5 separate regions of the Homo sapiens genome follow, and all the other regions are linked to region 2. Evidence: fine-mapped expression QTL. A gene starts in region 2. Each other region holds a variant in brackets. All regions are shown on one strand. Distances are between the middles of the regions. Region 1 overlaps NSUN6 (NOP2/Sun RNA methyltransferase 6). Region 2 holds the start of NSUN6 (NOP2/Sun RNA methyltransferase 6). Region 3 overlaps NSUN6 (NOP2/Sun RNA methyltransferase 6). Region 4 overlaps NSUN6 (NOP2/Sun RNA methyltransferase 6). Region 5 overlaps MRC1 (mannose receptor C-type 1).

What was found. PIP is the estimated chance that this variant, and not a neighbour inherited with it, causes the effect.
Region 1: its variant is fine-mapped to the expression of NSUN6 in whole blood (INTERVAL, PIP above 0.99). The same link has a PIP of 0.9 or more in monocytes after interferon gamma.
Region 3: its variant is fine-mapped to the expression of NSUN6 in whole blood (TOPMed, PIP above 0.99).
Region 4: its variant is fine-mapped to the expression of NSUN6 in whole blood (INTERVAL, PIP 0.96).
Region 5: its variant is fine-mapped to the expression of NSUN6 in lymphoblastoid cells (GEUVADIS, PIP 0.91).

Annotation. Positions count from the first base shown.
Region 1 is chr10:18,565,467-18,571,539 of GRCh38, reverse strand. All of the region lies in intron 8 of NSUN6 (NOP2/Sun RNA methyltransferase 6), which reads left to right. Among named protein-coding and RNA genes, the nearest start is that of CACNB2-AS1, 29 kb to the right of the region's middle. The variant G/ATGGAG (reference allele first, on the strand shown) is at 3,141.
Region 2 is chr10:18,648,241-18,654,313 of GRCh38, reverse strand. NSUN6 (NOP2/Sun RNA methyltransferase 6) reads left to right here and starts at 2,727. Exons shown (of 11, transcript NM_182543.5): 1 at 2,727-3,185; 2 at 5,669-5,824. The coding sequence starts at 3,111. RefSeq lists an enhancer at 2,488-2,587.
Region 3 is chr10:18,616,352-18,622,424 of GRCh38, reverse strand. All of the region lies in intron 3 of NSUN6 (NOP2/Sun RNA methyltransferase 6), which reads left to right. Among named protein-coding and RNA genes, the nearest start is that of NSUN6, 32 kb to the left of the region's middle. The variant A/G (reference allele first, on the strand shown) is at 2,539.
Region 4 is chr10:18,592,279-18,598,351 of GRCh38, reverse strand. It overlaps NSUN6 (NOP2/Sun RNA methyltransferase 6), which reads left to right. Exons shown (of 11, transcript NM_182543.5): 7 at 2,025-2,144. Among named protein-coding and RNA genes, the nearest start is that of CACNB2-AS1, 56 kb to the right of the region's middle. The variant A/G (reference allele first, on the strand shown) is at 2,289.
Region 5 is chr10:17,812,625-17,818,697 of GRCh38, reverse strand. The region is part of intron 1 of MRC1 (mannose receptor C-type 1); the gene reads right to left. Among named protein-coding and RNA genes, the nearest start is that of MRC1, 6.3 kb to the right of the region's middle. The variant A/T (reference allele first, on the strand shown) is at 3,133.

The DNA of each region.
Region 1 (6,073 bases), 83 kb after region 2:
TGGAGAATGGAGTGGGGAATGGAATAGAATGGGGAATGGAATGGAAAGGGGAAGGGAATGGAATGGAGAATGGATTGGAATGGAATAGAGAATGGTTTGGAATGGAATGAAGAATGGAATGGAATAGAGAATGGAATGGAATGTAGAATGGAATGGAATGGAGATTGAACTGGAATGGAGAGTGGAATGCACTGGAGAATGCAAGGGAATGGAATGGAGAAAAGAAGGGAATGGAATGGAGAAAAGAAGGGAATGGAATGGAGAAAGGAAGGGAATGGAAAGGAGAATGGAGAATGGAATGGAATGAAGAATGGTATGGAACAGAATGGAGAATGGAAGAGAATGGAAGGGAATGGAATGGAGAATGGAATGCAGTGAAGAATGGAATAGAATAGATAGTGGAATGGAGAATGGAATGAAAAGTGGAATGGAATGGAGAATGGAATGGAATGGAGCATGGAATGCAATGAAATGGAGAATTGAGTGGAGAGTGGAATGGAAAGTAGAGAATGGAATGGAATGGGGAATTGAATGCAGTGGTGAATAGAATGGAATGGAAAATGGAATGGGAATGGAATGGAGAAAAGAGAACATGGAATGTAGAATGTAATTGAATGTAGAATGGAATGGAATGGAGAATGGAATGGAATGGAGAATGCTATGGAATGCAGTGGAGAATGGAAGAGAATGGAATAGAGAATGGGATGGAATGCAGTGGTGAATAGAGTGGAATGGAGGATGGTATGGAGAATGGAATGGAAGGGAGCATGGAATGGAATGGAGAATGGAATGGAGAATGGAATGAAATGGAGTGGAGAATGGAATGGAATAGAGAATGGAATGGAATGGAGCATGAAATGGAATGGAGAATAGAATGGAATGGAATGGATGATGGTATGGAGAATGGAATGGAATGGAGAATGGAATGGAATGGACAGTGGAATGGAATGGAGAATGGAATGGACACTGGATTGGAATGGAGAATGGAAAAGAGCGGAATGGAATGGAGGATGGAATGGAGAATGGAATGGAAAGGAGGATGGAATGGAATGGAAAGTGGAACGAAATGGATTGGAGAATGGAATGGAATGGAGAATGGAATGGAATGGAGAATGGAATGGAGAATGGAAGGGAATGGAATGGAATATGGTATGGAATGGAGGATTAAATAGAATGGATAATGGAATTGAATATGGAATGGAGCATGGAATAGAATGAAATGAAGAATGGAATGGAGAATGGTGTGGAATGGAAGGGAAAATGGAGAATGGAATGGAATCGAGAATTGAATGGAATGGAATGGAGAATAGAATGCAATGGAATGGGATGGACATGAATGGAGAATGGAATGAAATAGAATGGAGAATGGAGTGGAATGGAATGGAGAATGGAATGGAATGCGAAATGGAATGGAATGAAGAATGGAGAATGGAATAGAATAGAATGGGCAGTGGAATGGAATGGAGAATGGAATGGAATGCAAATAGAATGGAATGGAGAATGGAATAGAATGGAATGAATAGTGGAATGCAATGGAGAATGGAATGGAATTGAGAATGGAATGGGGAATGTAATGGAATGGGGAGTAGTATGGAGTGCAATAGAGAAAGGAAAGGAATGGAATGGAGAATGGAAGGAAATAGAAGGGAGAATGGAATGGAATGGAGAATGGAATGGAATGCGGAATGGGATGGAATGGAGAATGGAATGGTATGGAGAATGGAATAGAGAATGGAATGGAATGGAGAATGGAATGAAATGCAGTGGTGAATAGAATGAAATGGAGAATGGGATGTAATGGAATGGAGGATGGTGTGGAGAATGGAATAGAATGGAGAGTGGAATGGAGAAAGGAATAGAATATGGAATTGAATGCAGTAGTGAATATAATGGAATGGAGAATGGAATGTAATGGAATGGAGGTTGGTAAGGAGAATGGAATGGTGTGGAGAATGGAATGGACAATAGAATGGAAGGGAGAATGGAAAGGACTTGAAAATGGAAAAGAATGGAATGGAATGGAGGATGGAATGGAATGGATAGTGGAATGAAATGGAATGGAGGATGGAAAGGAATGGAATGGAGGTTGGTAAGGAGAATGGAATGGAATTGAGAATGGAATGGGCAATGGAATGGAAGGGAGAATGGAATGGAAAATGGAAGAGAATGGAATGGAGAATGCAATGGAATGGAAAATGGAATGAAATGCAATGGTGAATACAATGGAGTGGAGAATGGAATGGAATGGAGGATGGTATGGAGAATGGAATGGACTTGGAAATGGAGGAGAATGGAATGGAACGGAGAGTGGAATGAAATGGAGAATGGAATGCAGAATGGAATGGAATGGAGAATGGAATGGAATGGAATAGAGAATGGAATGGAGAATGCAGTGGAATGGGGAATGGAATGGAGAATGTAACGGATGGAGAATGGAATGGAATGTGGAATTGAATGGAATGGAGAATGGAATGAAATGGAGAATTGATTGGAATGGAATTGAATAGAGAATGTAATGGAAGGGAGAATATAATGGAAAGGAATGGGGAAGGGAATGGAATGGAGAATGGAATAGAATGGAGAATGGATTGGAATGGAATGGAGAACCAAATGGAGAATGGAATGGAATGGAGAGTAGAATGGATTGGAATGGAACAGAATGGAGAGTGGAGAATAGAAAGGAATTGAATGTAGAATGGAATAGAGAATGGAATGGAATGGAGAACGGAATGGAATGTGGAATGGAATGAAGAATGTTAGGGAGACTGCAATGGAATGTGAAATGTATTGGAATATGGAATGCAATGGAGAATGAAATGGAATGGACAGTGGAGTGGAGAATGGAAGGGAATGGAATGCAGAATGGAATGGAAGTGAATGGAGAATAGAATGGAAAAGAGAATGGAATGGAATGGAGAATGGAATGCAATGGGGATTTGAATGTGGAATGGAATGCAATGGAAAGGGGAATGGAATGGAAAGGAGAATGGATTGGAATGGAATGGAGAATGGATTGGAATGGAATAGAGAATGGTTTGGAATGGAATGGAGAATAGAATGGAATGCAATGGAGAATGGAATGGAATGGAGATGGAGCTGGAATGGACAATGGAATGAAATGGAGAATGGAATGGAATGGA[G/ATGGAG]AATGGAATGGAGAAAGGAAGGGAAGGGAATGGAATGGAATCGAGAATGCAGAATGAAATAGAATGGATAATAGAATGGAATGCGGAATGGAATGGAGAATGAACTGGAATGGAAAAAGGAATGGAATGGAGAATGGTATGGAGTGGAACAGAGAATGGTAGAGAATGAAATGGATAATGGACGGGAATGGAATGGTGAATTTTGTGGAATGGAGAATGGAATAGAATGGATAATGGAATGGAGAATGGAATGGCATGAGAAATGTAATGTAATGCAGAATGGAATGGAATGGAGCATGGAGTGCAATGAAATAGAGAATGGAATGGAATGGAACGGAAAATGGAGAATGGAGAATAGAATGCAATGGAGAATAGAATGGCATGCAGTGGTGAATAGAAAGGAATGGAGAATGGAATGGAATGGGGAATGGAATGGAGAAAGGAATAGAATATGGAATGGAATGGAGAATGGAATGGAAAATGGAATGGAATGCAGTGGTGAATAGAATGGAATGGAGGATGGTATGGAGAATGGAATAGAATGGAAAATGGAATGGAGTAGAGAATGGAATGTAAAGGAATGGAATGGAGAATGGAATGAAGAATGTAGAATGCAATGGAATGGAGAATGGAATGAAATGGAGAAAGGAATGGAATGAAATGCAGAATGGAATGGAGGATGGAATGCAATGGAGAATAGAATGGAAGGAGAATGGAATGGAATGCGGAATGGAATGCAATGAGGAATGGAATGGAATGGAGAATGGAATAGAGAATGGAATGGAATAGAGAATGGAATGGAGAATGGAATGCTATGGAGAATGGAATGGAACGGAATGGAGAATGGAAGAGAATGGAATGGAGAACGGAATGGGATGCAGTGGTGAATAGAATGGAATGGAGAATGGAATGGAATGGAGGATGGTATGGAGAATGGAATGGAATGGAGCATGGAATGGAATGGAGCATGGAATGAAATGGAGCATGAAATGCAATGATGGAGAATGGTATGGAATGGAATGGAAAATGGAATATGGAATGGAATGGAGAATAGAATGGAATGGAATGGAATGCATTGGTGAATAGAATGGAATGGAGGATGGTATAGAAAATGGAATGGAATGGAGAATGGAATAGAATGGAGAAAGGAATAGAATATGGAATGGAATGGAGAATAGAAGGGAATGGAATACAGTGATGAATAGGCTGGAAGGGAGAATGGAATAGAATGAAATGTAATGGAGGATGTAATGGAGAATGGAATGGAATGCAGTGGTGAATAGAATGGAATGAAATGGAGGATGGTATGGAAAATGGAATGGAATGGAGAATGGAATAGAATGGAGAAAGGAATAGAATATGGAATGGAATGGAGAATGGAATGGAGAGTAGAATGGAATGGAATGCAGTGGTGAATAGAATGGAATGGAGAATGGAATAGAATGAAATATAATGGAGGCTGGAATGGAGAATGGAGTGGAATGGAGAATAGAATGGACAATGGAAAGGAATGGAGAATGGAATGAATGGAATGGAGAATGGGAAAGAGTGGAATGGAATGGAGAATGGAATGGAATGAAAAATGGTATGGAATGGAGAATTGAAGGGAATGGGTAATGGAATGGAATGCAGAATCGAATGGAGCATCGAATGGAATGGAGCATGGAATGGAATGAAATGGAGAATGGAGTGGAGAATGGTGTGGAATGGAACAGAAAATGGAGCATTCAATGGAATGGAGAATAGAATGGAATGGGAAATGGAATGGAATAGAATGGAGAATGGAAGGGACTGGAGAATGGAATGGAATGGAGAGTAGAATGCAATAGAATGGAATGGAATGGAGAATGGAATGGATTGGACAGGAATGTAGAATGGAGTGGAATAGAATGGAGAATGGAATGGAATGGAGAATGGAATGGAATGGAGAATGGAATGGAATGCAGAATGGAATGGATTGCTGAACGGAATGGATTGTGGAATGGAATAGAATGAAGAAGAATGGAGAATGGAATGGAGAATGGAATGGAATGTGGAGTGGAATGGATTGCGGAATGGAATGGATTGTGGAATGGAATAGAATGAAAAAGAATGGAGAATGGAATAGAATGGGATGGAGAATGGAATGGAATGGAGAACGGAATGGAATGTGGAATGGAATGGATTGCGGAATGGAATGGATTACAGAATGGAATAGAATGAAGAATGGAGAATGGAATAGAATGGAATGGAGAATGGAATGGAATGGAGAATGGAATGGAATGTGGAATGGAATGAAATGTGGAATGGAATGGATTGTGGAATGGAATAGAATAAAGAATGGAGAATGGAATAGAGTAGAATGGAGAATGGAATAGAGTGGAATGGAGAATGGAATGGAATAGAGAATGGAATGGGGATTGTAATGGAATGGGGAATGGTATGGAATGGAAGAGAATGGAATGGAGAATGGAAGGGAATGGGAGGGAGAATGGAATGGAATGCAGAATGGAGAACGGAATGGAATGGAGAATGGAATGGAATGCAGAATGAACTGGAATGGAGAATAGAATGGAATGGACAATGGAATGGAATGGAGAATGGAATGGAGTGGAGAAAGGAATGGAGTGGAGAATGGAATGAAAGGGAGGATGGAATGGAATGAAATGGAGCGTGGAATGGAGATTGTTGTGAATATAATAGAGAATGGAATGGCATGGAGTGGAATGGAATGGAAGGAAGAATGGAATGGAATGTAGTGGAAAATGGGAAGGAATGGAGAATGGAATGGAAAATGTAACAAATGGAGAATGGAATGGAGAATGGAATAGAGTGCTGAATGGAATGGAGAATGGATTGGAATGGAATGCCACGGAGAATGGAGAATGTAATGTAATGGAAAATGGAGTAGAATAGAATGGAATGGAGAATGGAATGGAATAGAATGGAGACTG
Region 2 (6,073 bases):
CAACCTGGAAGAACAGAAAAAGGGAGGACTAGATAGAAATTAGTTAACTGTCTAGCTGGGCATGGTGGCAGGCACCTGTAATACCAGCTACTCAGGAGGCTGAGGCAGGAGAATCGCTTGAACCCAGGAAGCGGAGGTTGCAGTGAGCCGAGATCATGCCATTGCACTCCAGCCTGGGCGACAGAGTGAGACTCGAGGGCAGTGATCACCTAAATCAGTGTTTTATCAACCTTTTAAAATTATCATCCCCCTAAAGAGCCTTTCTAGACATTTTTTCCTGCTAATTCTCCCATACCCTTACCATGAAATTAAATGCTCAGGAGTGATTGTTTTGGTAAGGTTAAGCTTTGGAGTTCCACAAACTAAAAAGAGTGAGATTGTATCAAAAATTGTTTCAGTCCTCCCTGAGTTCCCCACACCCTGGGGAGCCATGTCGCCCATATGAAGAACTTGTAGCCTAAATAAATCTTATATGGGTGTATTCATAGAGTAGTTTTCCTTTGCTTACATAGCACATATCTACTATGCCAACCTCTTGTTTTGTAATATGCTTTTCTTGGATCCAGCCTTAGAATCCCAAGAGATATCTTCGTCAACATTAACTGTCATTACTATAACATCTAGTCAAGAATAGTCTAAATGGCTGGGTGTGGTGGCTCACGCCTGTAATCCCAGCACTTTGGGAGGCTGAAGTGGGTGGATCACTTTGAGCTGAGGAGTTCGAGACCAGCCTGAGCAACATGGTGAAACCCCATCTCTACTAAAAATACAAAAATTAGCCGGGCGTGGTGGTGGGCACCTATGATCCCAGCTACTGGGGAGGCTGAGGCAGGAGAATCACTTGAACCTGGGAGGCAGAGGTTGCAGTGAGCTGAGATAGCACCACTGCACTCCAGCCTGAGCGACAGAATGAGACTCCATCTCAAACAAACAAAAAAGTCTAAATGTCCTCAATTCTGTCCGTGTGTGGCACTAGTGAAGTAATTTCTGGCAAATGCTTTATCAGCATTTTCTTTCCATAGTTTATAGAGATGTTCATCCATCTTTTCATTTAGTCATTCAGTAAGTATTTGAGTGCCCATTATGGATTAGGCTTGGGTACATAGTGGTGTGATAAAGTCTCTATCCTTGTGGAGTTTAAAATGTAGTTCAACTTGTTTCTCCTCCTTTATCGCTAAAATACAGATTCTAGCCATCAGTGGTGCTATGGTCACCATGAAATTCAGGCTACAGAAATTCCTTTGGAAATGTCTGATTTAGACATTTATCACTTTCAGATGTTTTAGCCATGAAAGAATCTCATGGATTTATTGAAGAAATATGCTATGGTCAAGGACAAGGTATTGGCTCTAGAAGCCAAATTACTAGTCTTTATCCTGGCTTTTTATTTGTGAGAACATGGAGAGTTGTTTCAACCCTAGGAACCTTGATTTACTCTTTAAAACAGAGAAAATGGGCTGGGCGTGGTGGCTCACGCCTGTAATCCCAGCACTTTGGGAGGCTAGAGAGTCAGATCAGTTGAAGTCAGGAGTTTGAGACCAGCCTGGCCAGCATGGTGAAACCCCGTCTCTATTAAAATTACAAAGATTAGCTGGGCCTGGTGGCACATGCCTGTAATTTTAGCTACTCGGGAGGCCAAGGCAGGAGAATCTCTTGAACCAGGAGGTGGAGGTTGCAGTGAGTCGAGATCCCACCATTCCACTCCAGTCTGGGCGACAGAGACTCAAAAAAAAAAAAAAAAAAAGAGCAGAGAAAATGATAAACAACTTGCAGGTTGTTGTGTGGTATAATGGTCATTCATTATTTTCTACTCTTTCTGGTAAAGAGTTGGTGTGTCATGGAAAGTACCTGTTCTATGTGTGTGTGTCTGTGTGTATAATTCGGTGTGAAAATTAAAGAGAAAAAAACAATAAAAAACCCTTTCCTATACTTATGTGTAAATTACCATGGTGTGCTGCAAAAAACATATGTCAAGGTGATAGAATTATTTTGACTTTCCTGTACAGTTATAAAATGACTCAGTGAGTTTGGTTAGATATCCTCGTTCTTTGAATCTATATCCTTGTCTGCTTATGATGAAAAAAAAGAAAAAAAAATAATGGCGAGGGTCTTCCAAACTCTAAAGAATATGTCAACTATGATACAAGTAGCAGTTAGCCTTATAACTAACTGTAAACACTGTCTGTGGGTTTTAAGTTTTACCTGAGCATTGGATATTAACAGACCATTAGCCCAACTTTCAAAAATATGAACCCTATGAACTTCACAACTGAAGTCAGATCTGTATGCCTGAGAGAGGTAAAATCATGTCATGAAATCAAACGGTGGCTGATGCGCCCAAATTCTGGCCTCATCCTCTAACTGGAGGACATCTGGCAGGACAGCAACTGGGCTGTGCCTTTTTTCAGTCCAGCAACATCTTCCACTCAACCCACGCCATTTGGCTGTTTCCCCATTGCCCCTGGCACCTAGCCCTCCGGTACCGGGAACTAAATATCTTTGACCATCCCGCCCGCGGGGTCTGCCTACTTAACCTGAGGCAGGTGAAAGAGCCTCACGCAGGGTTAGGAACCTCCGGGGGCGTGGCGTAGCGTAACGCAGTGTTGGGGAAACTTGCGGCTGTGGATTGGGGGACCGGAAAGGGAGGGGTGGGCCGCAGGCGCCGGACGTGACGTAAGCCGGAAGCGACTTTCCGCCGAGAAATAGGGGGCGCGTGTTTGGAAATTGATAGAAAAGATAAAGGGACCGAGCTGCTGTCAGCCTGGCTTACTGATCTGCGTCCGTTTCACCACGGATTCAGTTACTAAGCATTTTTTTCTTTTTTTGGTTCTTTGCAACGTGAGTGGCATTGGCTCAGTGATTTCCATGAGCATCTCTACCAGAAAACATTGCCTCGATGAGGTGTGGTGGAAGCCCGGCAGCCCCTTCTAATCGGCTAGGCTTGAGAAAGCGTGTACCTCTGCATTTCCGAAATTAACTCAGCGTGATCGGCAAGATTTTCCTCAGCATCTGGTGTCAAGACACTCGTCACTATTAATTCGGAAAGAAAAAAAAAAACAAAACACCGTTTTCCAGCATTTCTCTTGGTGGAGAACTAAACAACAGGAAAAATGTCTATTTTCCCTAAGATATCTTTGAGACCTGAGGTTGAAAACTATCTTAAGGAAGGCTTTATGAATAAGGAGGTAGGTCAAGTAAAGATGTTAGTTGATATTTTGCAAAAACTCAAATATTCGCACACTCGAGAGAAATAGAAATAAGTATAAAGGGAAATCTTGACAGCCGTCGTTCCTTACTACTTGTCTATCAAGTGTAAAAATACCAATATGTTTCTACAGGTATTAAAGCTTACTGAGATACGAAGTGAATAAGGTATATGTTTTAACATTTAGGAGTGGAAAAGAAGGGAAAAAAGGCATGTGCCTGTCAGGCATGGCACAAAGGGTTACAAGGATGAACAAGAAAAGGTCCCTGTCTTCAAGAACTCGAATCGAATTTTAAAAGAGCGCTGGCTCTGGCACTCAGGTGAAAAGGTTTCTGTAATTTGTTGAGTGCCTCTTAAATGCCAGCAGTTGTGCTAGGAGATTTGCATCTTTAATCTTCACAATCTTTTTTTTCTTAGAGGTTTTTCCTCTTTTAATAGACTTGAGCAGAAAACTGCTCAAGGAATTGTGTAACTGATCCAAGTTGACACAGCTATCAAGTAACTATTGAAATCTGGAGGGAAAGAGTTCAGGTGTAATGAACAAAGGTACAGCTTTTGAATCTCAGGCACATGATTTGCATTCTAGTGCTTTGTAAATTACGTGGCTTAACCTAGATTTTTCTCTTCTGTGAAAAATTGAGAATGGTTAAAAATATCTTGCCAGGTTGTTTTAGGATATTAAACGTAAGTGAATACAACTAGCATTGTTTTGGCATGTAAGTCCTCAAAAAATGTTAATTTTATTTGCTAAAGTCCTCAGTAAATGTTGATTATCTTTGATTGCAAAGCCTGTTGTCTATTCCATTTTACCATGCTGCCTCTAAGCAACTTTGTTTTTTTTCAAATCTTTAATTTTTTAGTCAAGTTAAAAATATTTTACCAGGTTGTTTTAGGATATTAAACGTAAATGAAAACAACTTGCATTGTTTTGGCATGTAAGTCTTCAAAAAATGTTAATTTTGTTTGCAATTGGCAGTGCCTGCCACAGAAGTCCTCAGTAAATGTTGATTGTCTTTTATTGCAAAGCCTGTCCTCTCTACCACTTTACCATGTTGCCTCTAAGCAACTTTGTTTTTTTTGAAATCTTTAGTTTTCTTAGTTAGAGTAACACCACTTAAATGTTACTCATTTTTGAATATGTTATTGAAGCCATGCCTTTTAGATTTGATTTCTACGTTTCATTTCCAAAGATTAGCTTGAGGTACTAGACTGTATGGAAAGAGAAAATATATTCTGTTGATTTCAAGGGACTTAAAATATAAGGCACATATTAGGAGAAGTAGGGGCATACCACAATTTTTTCAGCAGATTTTAAAATGGAGAACGTCGTTTTATAAAGAAGATCCAAACGTCTTTCTTTGACACTGCCTCTGCCTCGAGTCTCATCAGTGGTATGGTTTTACAAAATGAAAAGCTATGCCTTTGTGAAAAGTACTGAAGGGAAAGGAATATTAAGTTTTATGCCTTTTTTTTTTTTTTTTGAGACAGGGTCTCCCTCTGTTGCCCATGTTGGAGTGCAGTGACATGATCACAGCTCACTGCTGCTTCGACCTCTGGGACTCAAGTGATCCTCTCACCTCAGCCTCCCGAGTAGCTGGGACCTCAGACAGGGGCCACCACTCTGGCTAATAATATTTGTATTGTTTGTAGTGATGGGGTTTCACCATGTTGCCCAGGCTGAATGTTCAGTTTTGATAAGACTAAACCTTGAGAAAGTATGAATACTTTTAAGGCTGGTGCATGAGTAGGCTAACAAGTGGTTTGTGAAGATTCTGTAAAGCAGGGTTTAGTCAAATAGGAAGACAAAGAAATACGTTTCTTGAAAAGCTTCGGTTAATTACAAGGGAATATTGTTGAGTCTTTATACCGTCATATTTGACAGGTGTCTTTGCTACTCATCTTTTTTGGATAATATATATTTGTTACATTTAATAACACCATATTAAAAAGCTGATGTCCTAGGGGAATCTTTATATGACAGTGACTATATCAATATTACTTATTTTTTAAATATTGGTATTTTAAAAGGATACCAGCCAGTTTGCTCTTGGATATGATGTTAGCTAATTAGCTAACGTCCAACTAACTTGGATATAATGCTAGCTCTACAGAGATGCTGTAATGGTAATGCATTATAAATAGACTGAATTCCTGAATTTATGTGAATAAATGTAGCAGATACTAATATTTGGAAAATGTTCATAATGCTTTGAAGTTTAGGCAATGTTTTTCTAAGCCCTTTATTTCAGGCATTTTCTTAGGTGTTTATTACCATGTTGAAGCCCAAGAACCCCGTGAAGTATTACTATTTCCTTAGTTGCTATTAACATATAAACAATACAGCAAAATAGAATGGAGCTGAACAATTGCTAAGCGATGTTTCATTAGATGGAATTAATATATAAGGATGCTCTGCTGACTGTTTTTAATTCTCAGGAAATTTAAACATGAACTTCTTTTTAGATTGTGACTGCTTTAGGTAAACAAGAAGCAGAAAGGAAGTTTGAAACTTTGTTAAAGCACCTGTCACATCCTCCATCATTTACAACTGTCAGAGTGAATACACATTTAGCCTCAGTACAACATGTGAAAAATCTGTTACTTGATGAACTTCAGAAGGTTTGTGGAAATTTTCTGTCATTTGTACATAATTACATTTTTGCAATCTACCATGTTTTCCATTAAAATCCTATGAATGATATAATACACTTCCAGTTTTACAGATAAGGAGATTGAGGACCATGAATGGTAAATTCTTCAAAGTTATCCTAGGTGGTAATGCTAGAACTTGAACCTAGTACTTCTGATTCTAAATTTATTCATTTTTGGTGACTAAAATAGCTCATTAAACCCCTCTGGGCCGCATTA
Region 3 (6,073 bases), 32 kb after region 2:
ATCTTTTGTAGTTGCCTTGTCACTCATGTCAGTACTGTCTTAGATTGTTTCTCATGGTTCTGGAGGCTGGAAATCCACGACGTGTGCCAGTATGCTTGGGTTCTGGTGAGTGCCCTCTTCTGCGATGCAGATAGCTGACTTCTCATTGTATTCTCACATTGCAGAAAGCAAGTGGGTAGCTCTTTGGTCTCGTATAAAGGCACTGATCCCATTTATGAGCATTCTACCCTCATAACTAATTACCCCTGAAGACTTCTCCAAATACCATCACATTGAGTTCGGGTTTCAGCATGTGAATTTTGGGGACACAAATATTCCATCCATAACAAGCACTTTAAGATTTCAATTTTTGTGTGTGTGTGTCTGTGTGTGTGTGTGTGTGTGTGTCATTCGTATATATATATATATATGTGTGAATAGGGTTATTGCAATAGAATATTTAAGAAATGCTGTTGCACAAGGACTACTGATTAAATAAAGGTGGCAGTCCTGCTGCAAAGAAGTATTTGGCATGCAGCAATATCATGTGCTGTTTCACAGTTTCATCCATCACCTTCCATTTGGTGTAGGGTTGTTAGTATGTGTAGGGTTGTGAATATGTGCAGTTAAAATACCAAATAGATAAAAATACATGATTTTAGATTCCTTAACAGGACATTCCCATAATCTGTTTTTAATTCCTTAGCTACTTCATTTTTTAGCTATTCTAATACTTTTCTCTCAATCTAGGTGTATTTATAGTTTTTTTCTCCAACCTATATTACTAAACTGTTGGAACGTAATCTTTCTTTAATGTTGTTGATGCACTCTATTTGGAAACATTTCAATAAAAATCAAGCTTTTAGCATATTTTATGGCCTTGCACCAACTTTTACGTTTGCTCTTTTAGTTTTCCTAGTAAAAACTCCCTTTCAACAATGCTGACTTAAATATTGATACTTGCATATGACATACTGTGTTTTTATATTGTCAGTCCTGGTGTCTATGGATCCCCAAGACCATTCCTTGGTTCTGTGATTCTCTAAGAGGAATTAGGGAATTCAGCACATACTTGTACTTACGGCTATGATTTGTTACAGTGAAAGAATATGAAGCACAATCAGCAAAGGGAAAACCATCACAAGCTTCCAGAGTCCTCTTCCAGGGGAGTCACACAGGACTCCCACAGGAAGTCCCCCAGTGCTGAGCTGTGACCACATGAGACTCACTGCCAGGATTCCTATTCAGGGCTCATCATGTAGATTCCCACTGCCTGGTACATACCCACATTCTGGATTCTCAGAAGGAAAGCTGGTATTTACTATAAATCATAGTTTGTTCAATAATTCAGGCACAGTGAGCCACTCTTAGCAGTTAATAAGTAAACCTCCTGAAATCTCAGTTCCCAGATGTCAGTCAAGGGCCAGCCTTGTAAGCAGGCTTTTCAAAGATAACAGATCAGGCCTACTATGTTAACTTTTTTCTGCACAGTTCTCTGTTCCAGAATTCATCCTTTCCCCTCCATGTTATTTTCATAAAATCTAACACTACAGATTTCACTTCCACAAAACATGTTTTTGAATTTGTGCTATATGTGAGATGTGATGGTGTTACAAAGATGAATGAGACATAGTTCTATAGTCTAAAGTCAGGAGACTTTGGTACAAGTCAGACTGTTATGATAGTCACAGTAGAAGTATAAATTAAATGCTATTGGAGCATAGAATAGGAAGGACTGAGTACAAAGAAATTGTTAAATATTTTCTCTAAGCAGATATTATTTCATTTGAGTCTTGAAGGTGAGGAGAAATTAGGCCGAAGGGCTGTTAAGGTGGGCAAGGTTATGCTAGGCAGAGAGAAGGCATGAGGAAAGACATGAATGCATGAAACATTGGTGGCTGCTGATAAAAGTGATCAGGTTTGGCTATTTGTTTTCAGAGTTGGGGGATGGGTGAAAGATGAAACTGAAGAAGTTGGGAGAGGCAGATATGAAGTATGAAGATTTTTTTGTACCAAGGAATTTTTTTTTCATAGACTTAAGAAGCTAAAGAATTTTTATTGTCGGGCGCAGTGGCTCATGCCTGTAATCCCAGCACTTTGGGAGGCCGAGGCGGGCGGATCACGAAGTCAGGAGATCGAGACTATCCTGGCTAACACGGTGTAACCCCATCTCTACTAAAAACACAAAAAATTAGCCGGGTATGGTGGCGGGTGCCTGTAGTCTCAGCTACTCAGGAGGCTGAGGCAGGAGAATGGCGTGAACCCGGGAGGTGGAGCTTGCAGCGAGCCAAGATGGCGCAACTGCACTCCAGCCTGGGAGACAGAGCTAGACTCCGTCTCAAAAAAAAAAAAAATTTTTTTTATTAGTAAAAATTAGATGTGTATTTTAGAAATATAATAGTGGTAGTGGTCTTCCAAACTGCTTGGAGATCATGACCCATTAGTAACTTGTGAAATCAATTTAATGTTTTCAATGAATATTTAAAAAAAAAGGGATGTTTTATAATATATTGCATCGCACATAGTAAAAATATTTAATGAAATGTTATGTGTGATACC[A/G]CACACACAGACATGTATGTGTAGTTTCTTATATCAAGATCTCAAATGATATAAAAACTTGAAATAAGTTCTTTTATCAAGTGTGTTTCTTACATCAACTGACAGTCAAAAGTTTCAGAAATTTTTTCAAAAGTTGAATTGCAAACCTGGAGAAAAGTTAGAAAAGTATTTCCGAGTTTTTTAGCTTCAATAATATGTATGGTGAATTAGATAACATGAAGATGTTTTTGCTACATACACCGAGGAGTGCTAAGTAAAAAAGAACATAGTAGGCCACAAAATGATGTAGTTGAGTGATTAAAAATGTAGTTGATATATTAGAGGTTAGGAATGCAGAATAATTGAAAAGAGAACAGCAAGCATGTGAGTTATTATTGGGGGGTTGAAGGTATGGGAAAGGAGGTGGTCTTTCTTCTAAATTTAGGGTCTTTGGTTTAAACAATTAAGTGTTAATAGTAAGGGTGAGAAATACCCAGTAGTCATTACAAGGCAGTAATTAAAAGTAGGTCTTTCTTGCCTTAGGATATAGGTTGGAGAAAAATGTGTTTCTGAGAATGCGCAGCCGTAAGTTCCCTCCGTCATAAAGGTCTGGAATGCAAATTGCTGCAACCTAAATTGGAACCTGCAAACTGGGAAATTAACTGTTTGGTCCCAAGCCAATTCCTGGGTACTTGGCAAAAACTAAGTGACACCACTCTGGAGCAGCACTCATTCAGTCCAAGCCAAACACTTGGCATTGTTAAAAGCTACACTGGGAATCAAACCACTATGAGTAAGAATCAGCATATATAATAAGCTGCAGGATTGGATTTCCCTCAGAACTTTTAACAAATAGACCTCTCTGGCATAGACTATAAAAACAGTTTTCTTCCAAGATCAGCTGAGATCGGGCATGTTCAGAGTGATATGGCTGTAGACAAAACAGTTTTCTTAAAATGATTAAAAATGAAAGAGTAAAACATAAAAGACCCTAAGGATAAAAAGGTAGAATTGAAAACAAATTTCTAAAAATAAATTATCATTAAAATTAAAAACTCATACAATGAATTAAACAGCAGATTAGACCCAACTGATGAGAAAGTTTTTGAATTAGGAGATGACTCTTAGGAAATTATCTAGAATGCAGCAGAGAGAAATTAAAAATATGAAAGTGAAATTGAGTCATGAAAAAGCACTTTACGTTTCTTTTTTTTTTTTTTTTTTTGAGATGGAGTTTTGCTCTTATTGCCCACGCTGGAGTGCAATGGCACCATCTCGGCTCACTGCAACCTCCACCTCCTGGGTTCAAGTGATTCTCCTGCCTCAGCCTTCCAAGTATCTGGGATTACAGGCATGCGCCACCATGCCTGGGTAATTTTGTATTTTTAGTAGAGACGGGGATTTCTTCATGTTGGTCAGGCTGGTCTTGAACTCCCAACCTCATGTGATCCACCCACCTCAGCCTCCAAAAGTACTGGGATTACAGGTGTGAGCCACTGCACCTGACCAGCATTTATATTTTTAATGAGTCTCAGGTATAGAGAATAGGAATAATGGGGGAAAGACAATAATCACAAGTGTAATGACCATGAATTTCTATCACTGATGAAAAATTTAAGAAGTGTGAGCTTGAAGCCAAAAGTAAAAGTAGATTCATGTCTACATACTTCAGAGTGAAGTTGCAGAACACCAAAGACAGAGAAAATCTGAAACCAGTGGTAAAAGGCAGGAAGCTATTTCAGTAATCACAAAGAGATATGTGTCCAACATCAGGAGATACGCCCACAAAACCTATCAGAACTAGAAGATAGCTTGATTCCTAAATCAATCAATGTGAAGGCTTAGGAGGACTTTAAGATGACGCTGAGTGTCTTAGTTTATTTTTTGCTGCTATAGCAGAATACCTGAGACTGGATAATTTATAAAGAACATAAATTTGTTTTTTGTAGTGTTGGAGGATACGAAGTCCAAGATCGAGGCATTTGCATCTGGTGAGGGCTTTCTTGCTGCATCTGTACATGGTAGAGGGCACAAGGGCAAGAGAAAGCAAACTCACTGCTGCAAGCCCTTTTTATTATAGCATTAATTCATTCATGAGGGCAGAGCACTCATGACCTGAACAGCTCCCAATAGGCCTCATATTCCAACACTGTTGCACTAGGGATTAAGTTGCCAGCACATGAATATTGGGGGACACATCCAGACCGTAACACTGAGGCATCTAGTTTGGTTATCTGGGCAGATAATGACGTCTCATTCAAGATTGGAAACAGGATGAAAAGATTTGGGATCCTGCCAAGGAGTGGAGGAATGGATGAGGGAAAACTGATTATTGTTTAGGACTTGTTGAGTTTGAAGTAACTGTGAGACGTCTCTATATAGCTGTCCGTAGGTAATTAGAAATACTAATTAAGAGTCTAAGCTGGGCGTGGTGGCTCATGCCTATAATCCCAGTACTTTGGGAGGCTGAGGCTGGTGGATCACCTGAGGTCAGGAGTTCGAGACCCACCTGGCCAACATGGTGAAACCCTGTCACTACTAAAAATACACAAGTTAGCCAGGTGTGGTGGCGAGCACCTGTAATCCCAGTTACTCAGGAGGCTGAGGCATGAGAATCACTTTAACCCAGATGGCAGAGGTTGCAGTGAGCCAAGATTGCGTCACTGCACTCCAGCTTGGGTGACAGAGAAAGACTTGGTCTCAAAAAAAAAAAAAAAAAAAACTAGAAAGGCTAAACATTAGAATTTGTGGATTGTTTTTGTGAGTGATTATTGAAATCATGAGATTGCCAAGGGATAGAATGCAAGGTGAGTAGAGATGGTCGCATGTTTTGGAACCTGGCGGGGAGAGCCTCTAAGAAGTAGGCAGAGAATGAGCAATGAGAATGTTTGGGACCAGGAAAGAGTGGGTATAAAGCTGAAAAATTAGTAAGATTTGATGAATTGGCGATCATGGAATTGAAGACAGGATGCACCTAATTCCCCCAGCAGTGAGTTGTGACAGCACATCCAAGGAAGCTTATTAGAGACTCATTGTTAAGGGTTTTTATTTAGGGCTGATCACATTGGGTCCCTGATCTTTGGAACCCTGAGTGTTAGAAGTAATACAGATTTTAGTGGTCTAAGAAATGAATGTGAGAAACTGGAAAAGACTCAAAAAGGTTGGGCAGCAAAGGAAGGAAAAAAGACTTATCTTCTTTTCCTGTCTTGTTTAAATTATTCATAATTTACCATGCAACAATTTACCACTTTAGAAATGTTTTTGTAATTCCTTGTGTATTTTTCTATTTTAGTCTTTGAAGACAGAGAAAGTCTATTTTTCTCCTAATGCTATGATAAACAGTAATGCTTGTTAAATGATTAAGCAATTTCTGGTGCCACTTTATTGCCTTCCAGCAGATGGACCTCTTGATTTTTTTCTTCCTCTCAAGTGCCCATCTTCGTGTTGCTGTTTTTTCCTGTTTCCTCTATATGTATGCCTCTCTTTTCAGCGTTTTCTTATGTATTCAGGACAGTTAAGACTAAAGAGGCATTAGAGTTCAGATAGAACACGGGAA
Region 4 (6,073 bases), 56 kb after region 2:
GTGTGAGCAGCAAGGCTGTTTATTTCACCTGGGTGCAGGCGGGCTGAGTCTGAAAAGAGAGTCAGCAAAGGGTGATGGGATTATCATTAGTTCTTACATGTTTTGGGATAGGCGGTGGAGTTAGGAGCAATGTTTTGCGGGCAGGGGTGGATCTCACAAAGTACATTCTCAAGGATGGGGAGAATTACAAAGAACCTTCTTAAGGGTGGGGGAGATTACAAGGTACATTGATGAGAGTGGGGCAGAAACAAATCACAATGGTGGAATGTCATCAGTTAAAGCTAATTTCACTTCTTTTGTGGATCTTCAGTTGCTTCAGGCCATCTGGATGTATACATTCGGGTCACAGGGGATATTATGGCTTAGCTTGGGCTCAGAGGCCTGACACTTAGCTCTTTGGGTGCCTAAATTGTTTGCATTGATTTTAATGCTTCATATATTCAGAGGAAGAAATTTGCTTGTTTGAAACTGCTTTCTCACCACTGAGTTTGTTTCAAAGTGGTGATCTTAGATTCCCTTGAGAATGTTGTAGCCATCTCACAGTTTTTTTGTATGTTTGTATGTATTTATTTATTTATTTATTTTTAGATGGAGTTTCGCTCTTATTGCCCAGGCTGGAGTGCATTGACGCTATCTCTGCTCACTGCAAACTCCACCTCCTGGGTTCAAGTGATTCTCCTGCCTCAGCCTCCTGAGTAGCTGGGATTACAGGCATGTGCCACCATGCCCAGCTAATGTATTTTTAGTAGAGATGGGGTTTCTCCATGTTGGTCAGGCTGGTCTCAAACTCCCGACCTCAGGCAATCCTCCCGCTTTGGCCTCCCAAAGTGCTGGAATTACAGGCATGAACCAGCACTCCTGGCCATCTCACAGTTCTTGAGGGTGTACTAATGGATGTATTGTTCAGTCTTTTGGTAGGAATGAATTGAAACCTTTAAGCTTTAAGAGGCACAATTGTGAGGATCCCAAATTTGAACCCAGCTTAAGCAAAATAATGAGACTCTGTCTCCAAAATAACCAAACAAGTAACTCCATGCTTATAAGACTCTGTTTTTCTTGCCAAATAATTTTAGAAATGAGTTATTTTATGATACTGTTCTATCTGTTTTATTCAAGGCTATCATTCTATAGTAAGTAGTCCTTATATAATTGATACTAATAACAAATTAATGATTTAATATGACTTACTGCTATAGATGAGGTATGTTTTGGTTGTATAACCTCATAATATATATTTAGGTCCCAGTCAGAAACAGCCAGGGTTTGAGGTTTTTTGTTGTTGTCGTTGTTTGTTTGTTTGTTTTTGCATTTTAGTTCATTTCCTGTTGAAATGTGGTGGAAGCAGGGACCCAAACATGCCTTTTGGGTGATTTAGCAGCATAAAACAAGGCATCTTAAATGAGAGTTAGATGATGAGGCGGCCAAAATGGCAAAGTTATATTCTTGGTTAACTGGAAGAAACCAATTATTTAATATTTATGTGTTCCCAAGTGGAGTTTAAATTATTAAAGTGAACAATGCTGAGATTGAAGTACTCTCAGATGATATGTCTATATGAAAATGGCATGCTTTTGTACTAAAATGCTGAGTAATGACCGCTGAGACCAAAATTTTGTACATTTTTTGGGAAAAAAGTCCAGAGTGGTCCTGCAATTTTAGAGGTCTCTGGCTTCCAGAATATTGAGAACCATTGGGATTCAGAAAAGGAAATAATATGGGTTATTTATTTATTTATTTTTTGCTGGTACCCAGAAAATACTGATAAGGCAATTGAGTTCAGTTGACTTGAAAATTGTGTCATGTATATTTTTGCGCAGGTGGTTTGTGTGTAAGTCCTGGGAGATCGTAGGATATTCTAGGAAATTGTGAATTTCCTAACCTGAGTATATTTATAAAAATTGTCCTCTTAGCAGACGTGAGGATGCTGTAGTGGATTACCCCCAAAGGGTTCTTTATATTCTCTGGTTCTCAAATTAAAAATGCTTTAGGATTATTGATAATCGATTACATTTTTTTCCTTATAGAATTTGCCATCTGCCTTAGTAAGTCATGTACTAAATCCTCAACCTGGAGAGAAGATTCTAGACTTGTGTGCAGCACCTGGAGGGAAAACAACACACATTGCAGCACTAATGCATGATCAGGTGAGACTGTCTTCACAGCAAATCCACTCTCAAAGTAGTGTATATTTCACAATGTGTAATTTCTGAAACATAGAGCCATTCACAGTCTCATTTAGTTCAGATTCAGCCAAAATGAAAACTATTCAGTTATGTCAGTCACTACAT[A/G]TTAAGCTCAGTAGACAATGATCATTTATGAAGACTGTCTCAAGACCGTCTTGAATTTTACAATTTGCTTATATGATTATAGACTTAATCTGTTAAGAAATTAAATTTAATACATTTAGATTATTTCATTTTCTTATAAGATTTCATAGTTGTTTAAACTATTAAAATATATTCTGCCATTAAAAACTAATTTCACAGTATATTATCAAAGTGTGAAATATGTATATGTTAAAATATATAAACATAGTTGTATAATACATAAACATATACACATACATATAGAATATTTACTATTTGAAGTTATCATTTTGGTCTAAGAAAGATCTCCAATAAAAAAGGATATTTTTTAAATACTGAGAATGAGAATCAAAAAAGAGAAAAGGATATTTGTTGTTTACATTTTGAGGAATGTAATACTCATTAGAGAGGATATACTTGCCTGCTTATTTATACTCTTCTTTGCCCCAAAAGAATTTAAGGTGGTAACAAAAACTCTTGAAGGAAAAATGCATTAAATACAACTAGGGCCTAAAATAAAGCACCTGAAATAAGAAGGGTTGATTTTGTGGCGTTGTGATGTTTAATGCAAATCATTTTTCACTTTATATGGAAGATTAAAGATTGATCATGATCGGCTTTGAGAAAGTGTTAATTCTCCATTAAATTATGGCATATTTATCGTATTTGCTTAAAGGTAATTATTCATAGAGATTTGGTTCTCTCTTAGTAAAAATGTCTTTCCAAAGGGAGTCTGGATATTATGGGTGTATCAGTTTTCTGTTGGTTTTATGATGTGTGAAGACACAAAATTTTGGCGGCATACAACTAAACATTTTGGGGGCTCAGGAGTCCATGGGATTCAGCTGATCCCTGCTGGGCTCACTCATGTACTGGTCACCTGCAGGTGAATTGGGTGTTTCTGATGATCTTGGGTGGGCCCATTCACTTGGTCTTGGATGGTTGTTGGCTCATCTAAAGTGGCCTCAGCTGAGATGACAGGGATGCCCTGCCTCTGGCCGATGTGTAAGTTCTCCCCTGATTGGGACCAGCAGGCTGGCCCAGCAGAGGGCAGTAGTTGGGGGCTGGTGATGGCAGAGAGCAAAGCAGAGCAAGTCCAACTGTTCAAGTGCTTTTCATGGTATTAAAAAAAACCTCTGCTTACATGACATCTACTGTCACCCTATTTATTGGCCAAAACAAATCACATGACTGAATCCCATCAGAGTGACAGCATATTGGATATTGCAGGATTATCTGGTGAAGAGTGAATATACATGGAAAGTTGAAGAATTGAGGCTATGTAGGCAGTCAGCCACAGTGGGGCAGCAATGCAGACACGAACAACCGGAATAGAAATATTTGAGCCACAATTGGATCACGAGGTTAAGAGATCGAGACCATCCAGGCCAACATGTGAAACCCCATCTCTACTAAAAATACAAAAAAAAGTAGCTGGGCATGGTGGCGTGTGCCTGTAGTCCCAGCTACTTGGGAGGCTGAGGCAGGAGAATCGCTTGGACCTGGGAGGCAGAGATTGCAGTGAGCCAAGATCGCGCCACTGCACTCCAGCATGGGTGACAGAGTGAGACTCCGTCTCAAAAAAAAACAAAAAACAACAACAACAAAAAAAAACAGAAAGTGTCTATCACTGAACCTGGTAGTATTTGAGGAATATTTACAAATTGTCTGCATTGTAGGCTATGCCATTGCTGCATATGGCATACAAGGGCAGTGTAAAAGAAAAGGGAAAACAAAGCAAGAAAATATATAGAAGAGTCATTCTCACTGTATTTGCAATTCCATTTCATAGTATGTTTTAAAATATATGAATGTCACCAGGCTTGCTTTCTTTTTTTTTTTTTTTCTCAGAGTCTTGCTCTGTCGCTGAGGCTGGAGTGCACCGTGGCCCAGTCTTGGCTTACTGCAACCTCCGCCTCCCGGGTTTGAGCGATTCTCATGCCTCAGTCTCCCAAGTAGTGGGGCTTACAGGTGCATGCCACCACACCCGAATAATTTTTGTATTTTTAGTAGAGATGGGGTTTCACCATGTTGGCCAGGATGGTTTCAAACTCCTGGCCTCAAGTGATCTGCCTGCCCCGGCCTCCCAAAGTGCTGGGATTACAGGCATGAGCCACTGTGCCTGGCCCACGATGCATTCTTAAAATTTTGGCCCTTTTTTTTTTTTTTTAATTGTGCTTTAAGTTCTGCAATACACCTGCAGAATGTGCAGGTTTGTTACATAGGTATACATGTGCCATGATGGTTAGCTGTACCTATCAACCCGTTATCTAAGTTTTAAGCCCCACATGCATTAGGTATTTTTCCTAATGCTATCCCTCCCCTTACCTCCAACCCTTTGACAGGCCCCCGTGTGTGATGTTCCCCTCCCTGTGTCCATGTGTTCTCATTGTTCAACTCCCACTTATGAGTGAGAACATGTGGTGTTTGGTTTTCTGTTCCTGTGTTAGTTTGCTGAGAATGATAACTTCCAGCTTCATCCATGTCCCTGTAAAGGACATGAATTCATTCATTTTTATGGCTGCTTAGTATTCCATGGTGTCTATGTGCCACATTTTCTTTATCCAGTCTGTCATTGATGGGCATTTGGGTTGGTTCCAAGTCTTTGCTATTGTAAATAGTGCTGCAGTAAACATATGTGTGCATATGTTTTTATAGCAGAATGATTTATAATCCTTTGGGTATATGCCCAGTAATGGGATTGCTGGGTCAAATGGTATTTCTGGTTCTAGATCCTTGAGGAATCGCCACACTGTCTTCCACAGCGGTTGAACTAATTTACACTCCCACCAACAGTGTAAAGGCTATTTCTCCTATTTCTCCACATCCTTGCCAGCATCTGTTGTTTCCTGACTTTTTAATCGCCATTCAAACTGGCGTGAGATGGTATCTCATTGTGGTTTTGATTTGCATTTCTCTAATGACCAGTGATGACGAGCTTTTTTTCATATGTTTATTGGCAGCATAAATGTTGTCTTTTGAGAAGTGTCTGTTCATATCCTTCGTCCACTTTTTGATGGGATTTTTTTTTCTTGTAAATTTGTTTAAGTTCTTCGTAGATTCTGGTTATTAGACCTTTGTCAGATGGGTAGATTGCAAAAATTTTCTCCCAATCTGTAGGTTGCCTGTTCACTCCAATGATAGTTTCTTTTGCTGTGCAGAAGCTCTTTAGTTTAATTAGATCCCATTTGTCAATTTTGGCTTTTGTTGCCATTGCTTTTGGTGATTTAGTCATGAAGTCCTTGCCTATGCCTGTGTCCTGAATGGTAATGCCTAGGTTTTCTTCTAGGGTTTTTATGGTTTTGGGTTTTACATTTAAGTTTTTAATCCATCTTGAGTTAATATTTGTGTAAGGAAGGGGTGCAGTTTCTGTCTTCTGCATATGGACAGCCAGTTTTCCCAGCACCATTTATTAAATAGGGGATCCTTTCACCATTGCTTGTTTTTGTCAGGTTTGTCAAAGATCTGATGGTTGTAGATGTGTGTTGTTATTTCTGAGGTCTCTGTTCTGTTACATTGGTCTATATGTTTTGTTACCAGTACATTGCTGTTTTGGCTACTGTAGCCTTGTAATATAGTTTGAAGTCAGGTAGCATGATGCCTCCAGCATTGTTCTTTTTGCTTAAGATTGGCTTGGCTATACTTGCCCTTTTTTGGTTCCATATGAAGTTTAAAGTATTTTTTTCTAATTCTGCTAAGAAAGACAATCGTGGCTTGATGGAAATACCGTTGAGTCTATAAATTACTTTGGGCATTATGGCCATTTT
Region 5 (6,073 bases), 840 kb after region 2:
CTCTGGGATTACAGGTGCATGTCACCACACCCACCTAATTTTTGTATTTTTAGTAGAGGTGGGGTTTCACCATGTTGGCCAAGCTGGTCTCGAACTCCTGACCTCAAGTGATCCGCACACCTCGGCCTCCCAACGTGTTGGGATTACAGGTGTGAGCCACTGCGCCCAGCCAAGTGTCAACATCGTAGCAGGCTGATCATCCTAACTCATTTTATTCTTTTATTTACCATATAATATCCATAACCATCTTAAAATATATTTTTCTTCAATTTGTTTACTAATGTTCTGTCCATAGTCCCCTACTGGAATGTAAATTTCATGAGACGAGGTACTTGATCTTTCTGATTTAGTGCTGCAGTCTCTTTTTGGGGAGCATAAATAATCTCTCAACAAATAATTAGTTGAATGAATGAAAGAATGTTTATTAAGCGGAAGCATCTTAACTAGTAACCCAGATAAATTATTTATCTAATGATAGATTAATGATTACAGGTATGCTGAATATTCATTTTTCCCCTGAAAGCTTATTTTTACTGAAGAGCAATTTAGAAATGTGTATACTTACAAAAAGGGTACTTGGAAATGAAAAGGTTCTGTTTCAATACACACTTATCTATTCTTGTTTCCTTTATTTATCTTTTGCCATTAGGAAGCAGTGTAAGTTTGATATTGCCTTTGCCAGACAATACAAGGAAATGTAAAATTATTGCTCTATGGTGATACATTCATCGTGCATTATTCTTCTCCCCAAGTAATCAGCATGTCATTTTGCCTTTATCATCATCTCTGCAACATGTCTGACTTAAAATGTCATACTTCTTCCTCTGAAGGCGTATTCAAGACGTTGGCCAAAAGGCAGCTTGTGGCATTTTTACCAATATTAACCACACCAACATTTATAAACATTCTATTTTTGTCCATACCAATTATGTTTTTGTAACAGAAATACGGCAAAGATGAACAGATCGACACAGTCGATCTGTTTTAATTTCTCTGCAATCTCTTTTGTAGGATCTAATATGTGAGTTTCTTTTTTTAATACTTACACATCAGAAATTTATATCCAGAATTGCAGTGATTCTCCTTCCATCCTAACTTGATCTTACTAATTTCACATTAATTTTTCAACAAATACTTGACAAACAATGACCACACGCCAGATGCTATGCTAATGACAATACAAAGACAAACAAAAGACATAAGTTTCCTGCCATGTTGAGCACACTCTCTGCTGTGGTTAACTCAAAGGCAAAAAGATCAAGGATCAAAATACATTTAGTAAAGAAGCAATAAGTTTCAACCCAATATCTCAGGTTAAAAATGATTAAAGACTAAACATCCAGTAACATGCAATAAGTTTCAACCCAATATCTCAGGTTAAAAATGATTAAAGACTAAACATCCAGTAACATAGGTGTGGATTTTCTTTCTTTTTTTTTTTTTTTTTTTTGAGACAGAGTCACTCTGTCGCCCAGGCTGGAGTGCAGTGGTGTGATCTCAACACGTTGCAACCTCCGCCTCCCAGGTTCAAGCGATTCTCGTGCCTCAGCCTCCTCAGGAGCTGGGACTATAGGCATGTGCCACCACACACCCAGCTAATTTTTGTATTTTTAGTAGAGATGAGGTTTCACCATGTTGGCCAGGCTGGTCTCGAACTCCTGATCTCAAGTGATCCACCTGCCCCGGCCTCCCAAAGTGCTGGGATTACAGGCATGAGCCACCGCGCCTGGCCTGGATTTTTTTTAAGCATTTTTAAAATTATGCCGCAACATTGAACAAGTCATTAAATTCCCAAGCCTACTAGCAAAGAAAATTTGGTTATTAAAGGTGATTGTTCAGGGAGATAAGTATGATATGCTACATTTTCTTATACATTTTTAGATTTTCCTGACTATCAGCAAATAAAATGCTGACATTGGAACACAAAAGACAATAACTTCTGGAAGACAGAGAAGCCAGATAAGAGGAAAAGCAGCAAGTAGCTGTAGCAGATGCCTCCAGATTTATACTATTTCTCCTCGGCCTTCGCTGTTTAGGTGCATGCAGGCCCCACTCCCAAACGCCAGCACCACGCCTTTTGCCCTGGGGGCTTTTTCTGGCTATCAGAGCCCTCTAGGCTCAAACATGGCACAAATTAGATGGGTCAGAAAACGAATGCCCTGTAGGAGGAAGCCTTCATCAGAGGCCAAGGAGAACCGCTGACGGCTCTAAATCTCTTGTACCTTGGATGTGATGAGTCCAAGGCAACCATTCCACACCGTCGCCCAGAGCTCCTACACTCCATTGCCCACAGCGGTCACTGGGTGTCCACACACCTTCCCTTTCTGTCTCACTTCCCCGTTACCCTGTCAGTGTTTCCTGGGCTCACTTCCCAAATAAACTAACTTGCCCTCAAACCAGAGTGCAATTGTCTGAGGACAGCTTCTTGGGGAATCCAAACTAAGAAATATGTTCACCAGCCTCAGTTAAATAAATGTACCTATGTTTTCCCCAAAGACCCCAAATTCAGTGAAAAACAAATATTTACCCTGCACCTAGTACATTCAAGAAGCTATGCCAGGTGCTGGGGGCTGATGGAGGGTGTTAGTCAGTCTTAGGCTTAGAAATGTTGAACAGGAGGCCAAGGCAGGCGGATCACCTGAGGTCAGGAGTTCGAGATCAGCCTGGCCAACATGGTGGAACCGCGTCTCTACTAAAAATACAAAAATTAGCCTATGTGGTCGCACATGCCCGTAATCCCAGCTATGGGGGGCTGAGGCAGGAGAATCTCTTGAACCCACAAGGCGGAGGTTGCAGTGAGCCAAGATCGTGCCACTGCACTGTAGCCTGGGCGACAGAGTGAGACACCATCTCAAAAAAAAAAAGAAAAGAAAAAGAAATGAAATGTTGAACAAAAGAAAAAAAAACAGAGAATTACTTCATTTGTCACTTTGATCCTTCATTCAGACCCAAAATATTCAGGGAAACTACTGATTTAGGTCATTGCAACTGGCCATTTGGAAAAGTACATAATATGAACCCAGTATGGGTCTGACCACAAGGACAAAACAGAGGCCAAGAAACTCTTCCAACTTCCCTCCTACCACCTTAAAGATATGAATATCTACACCTTCCCGGGGCCATTCGCTCCCA[A/T]GTCAGTAGAAGAGGCTTCCTTCCTCCTGCTGACCGCCCTACCTGTGTCCTGGACTGTGAACCCTCCTACTTCTCCACAGCTAGTTTCTGCTCTCACTCCTATTTCTTCAGCCTCTGAATGCCAGCCTCCCCAGATCCCCCTTAAGATAAATAAACAAAACCCTTTACTAGGTAAGAAGCTGACACCACACTGCTCTTTCTTCTTCCATGCATAGCCCCACTAATTCGTTCACCTTATGTATGTATCATGTCAATCTGATCATGACATAATCAGAGCTCTAGGATTTGGCTCCCAGGTAACAGACTCCGCTGCTCGCTGACTGTGTGACCTTGGCCAAGTTCAACATTACTCTGTGCTTCCACTTCCCCATCTGTAAAATAAAGGGGGAAATAGCAGGACCTCCTCATTGTCGTGAGAATGAAATGAGATCATCTAAATAAAGTGCTTAGAAGAGTTCCTGACACAGGAATTGCTTAATATATATTCATTATTATTATTGTTAACTTGGCAAAATCAGTCGTACAGACAGTGTGAGATGTTTCAGAATAAGATGAAATGAAAGAGCAGAGAACTGTTGCAGCAGTGCAGAAAGAGGGACCGGCCAGGCACGGTGGCTCCCGCCTGTAATCCCGGCACTTTGGGAGGGCAAGGCAGGAGGGATCACCTGAGGTCAGGAGTTCGAGATCAGCCTGGTGAGCATGACCAAATCCCGTCTCTACTAAAAATACAAAAATTAGCCTGGCAGGGTGGTGCACGCCTATAATCCCTGGAGAATCACTTGAACCCAGGAAGCAGAGGTTGCGGTGAGCCGAGATGGCGCCACTGCACTCCAGCCTGGGCGACAGAGCGAGACTCTGTCTCAAAAAAAAAAAAAAAAAAAAAAAAAAGAGGGACGGAAGGACCGAGAACACGGAACTGCAGGGTTTCTAGCCTCAGGGGATGTGGTGTGGAGGGTTATCTTCTTTGGGGTTGATAGGCTTGCAATCAAATCCTGGTTCCACCATTTTTTAGCTGTGATGCCTTAGTGCTATTAGCCATTCTAGCCTCTACTTCCTCATCTGTAAAATGGGGACAATAATGCTGTCTGGTAAAGCTACCGTGAATTTCTAAATGAGATCATTTATGTAAAGCACCCAGCATATTATCTGCATCTAATACACACTTGATAAATATTAATTCCTTCCTTTCCCCCTCTTGAAGTGAAAAGTCTAAAAAAATTGATACAGATAAAGGGATCTAAGTCCTTCTTCTAACATAGTGTTATTTTGAACCACATTATATCTTTCCTGATCAACACACTCCAGGTAGTAAATTTATCTACTTCTTAGCCTCAGAGTCTAAAGATCATAATGAAGAGTTAGCTCTGGTCTTTACTGACTACCTGACTTCTGCAAGCCACTGAATCTTCAGAGCTTCAACTTTCTCACATAGGGAAAGGTGCACAATGACATCTTCCCATCTGCTTTATGGGAAGCTATGGGTCCCTGAGGTCTAAGTTTCTACTACAGTTATTCATGTGCAATATTTGTAGATTAAACCAAAAGCTGCACAACTGTCAAAACCTAAGGTTGAGCATGGTGGCTCATGCCTGTAATCCCAGCACTTTGGGAGGCCGAGGTGAGCAAATCACTTGAGCCTAGGAGTTTGAGACCAGCCTGGACAACATGGCAAAACCCCATCTCTACAAAAAAACACAAAAGTTAGCCAGGCATGGTGGCATGCACCTGTGGTGCCAGCTACTTAGGAGGCTGAGGTGGGAGAATCACTTGACCCCGGGAAGTCAAGGCTACAGTGAGCAATGATCATGCCACTGCACTCCAGCCTGGATGACAGAGTGAGACCCTGTCTCAAAAAAAAAAAAAAATATATATATATATATATAATGTGTGTGTGTGTGTGTGTATATATATATATGTATATATTTATATATATAAAATCTAGCCCTATGTTCCAAAGCATAAAAGTTAGCTCAGCCTTCTAGATACAAACACTGAGAAAGATGGAGAACAAATTTAAAAAGGAGAAAGGTGCTTGTATTTTTCTCCCACTTAATTCAGTTTTGTGAAAAAATACACTGAAGAATCAATATTTACCATAAGACATACATTTATATTGGAATCAAAGTTTTCAAGAGTGCTTGTGAAAAACCACTACTGTGATAATCACATGATAATAATTATCTTTCTTAGCATTTCAACGAGGGAAATGAAATAGAGGAGTATCAGGATTATACCATTAGCGTGATGTCTATGTCAGAACCACAGTTGGATCCCTTCCAGCCAAATGTGAGACCCGCAAATGGCAACAGGAATAACCTAATTTGCACTTACTTGATCTAACAGCGCAGCAAGAAATCTAAGGGGATGTGGAAAAGTACAAGCCGTTGAGCAAAGTCCTGGATCTACATCTACCTGCTAAACAGTCACCTTCTGGACATTTTACCTCCCTGAGCCTGGTGCTTCATCTATAAAATGATGATGTCAAAATGCATCATTTCCTAGTTTGTTCTTGCTTTAATGGTCTATGATTCTAAGGCTTCTCTGTCCACCAAGACGTCTCTCATTATCATTTTTTGCAGATGTTCTAGGCTTTTCATGATACTACCTGACCCACTGTTTGAGCGCCTTCCCAGAGCCTAGAAAGGCTCCATATTGCCCTGGGACCAATAGCAGCAGCTAGCAAGAGCCTATTGTTGGCCAGGTGTGGTGGCTCATGCCTGTAATGTCAGCACTTTGGGAGGCTAAGGTGGGCAGATCACGAGGTCAGGAGTTCAAGACCAGCCTGGCCAACATGGTGAAACCCCATCTCTACTAAAAATAGAAAAAATTAGCCGGGTGTGGTGGCGGGTGCCTGTAATCCCAGCTACTCGGGAGGCTGAGGCAGGAGAATTGCTTGAACCCACGAGGCAGAGGTTGCAGTGAGCCAAGATCACACCATTGC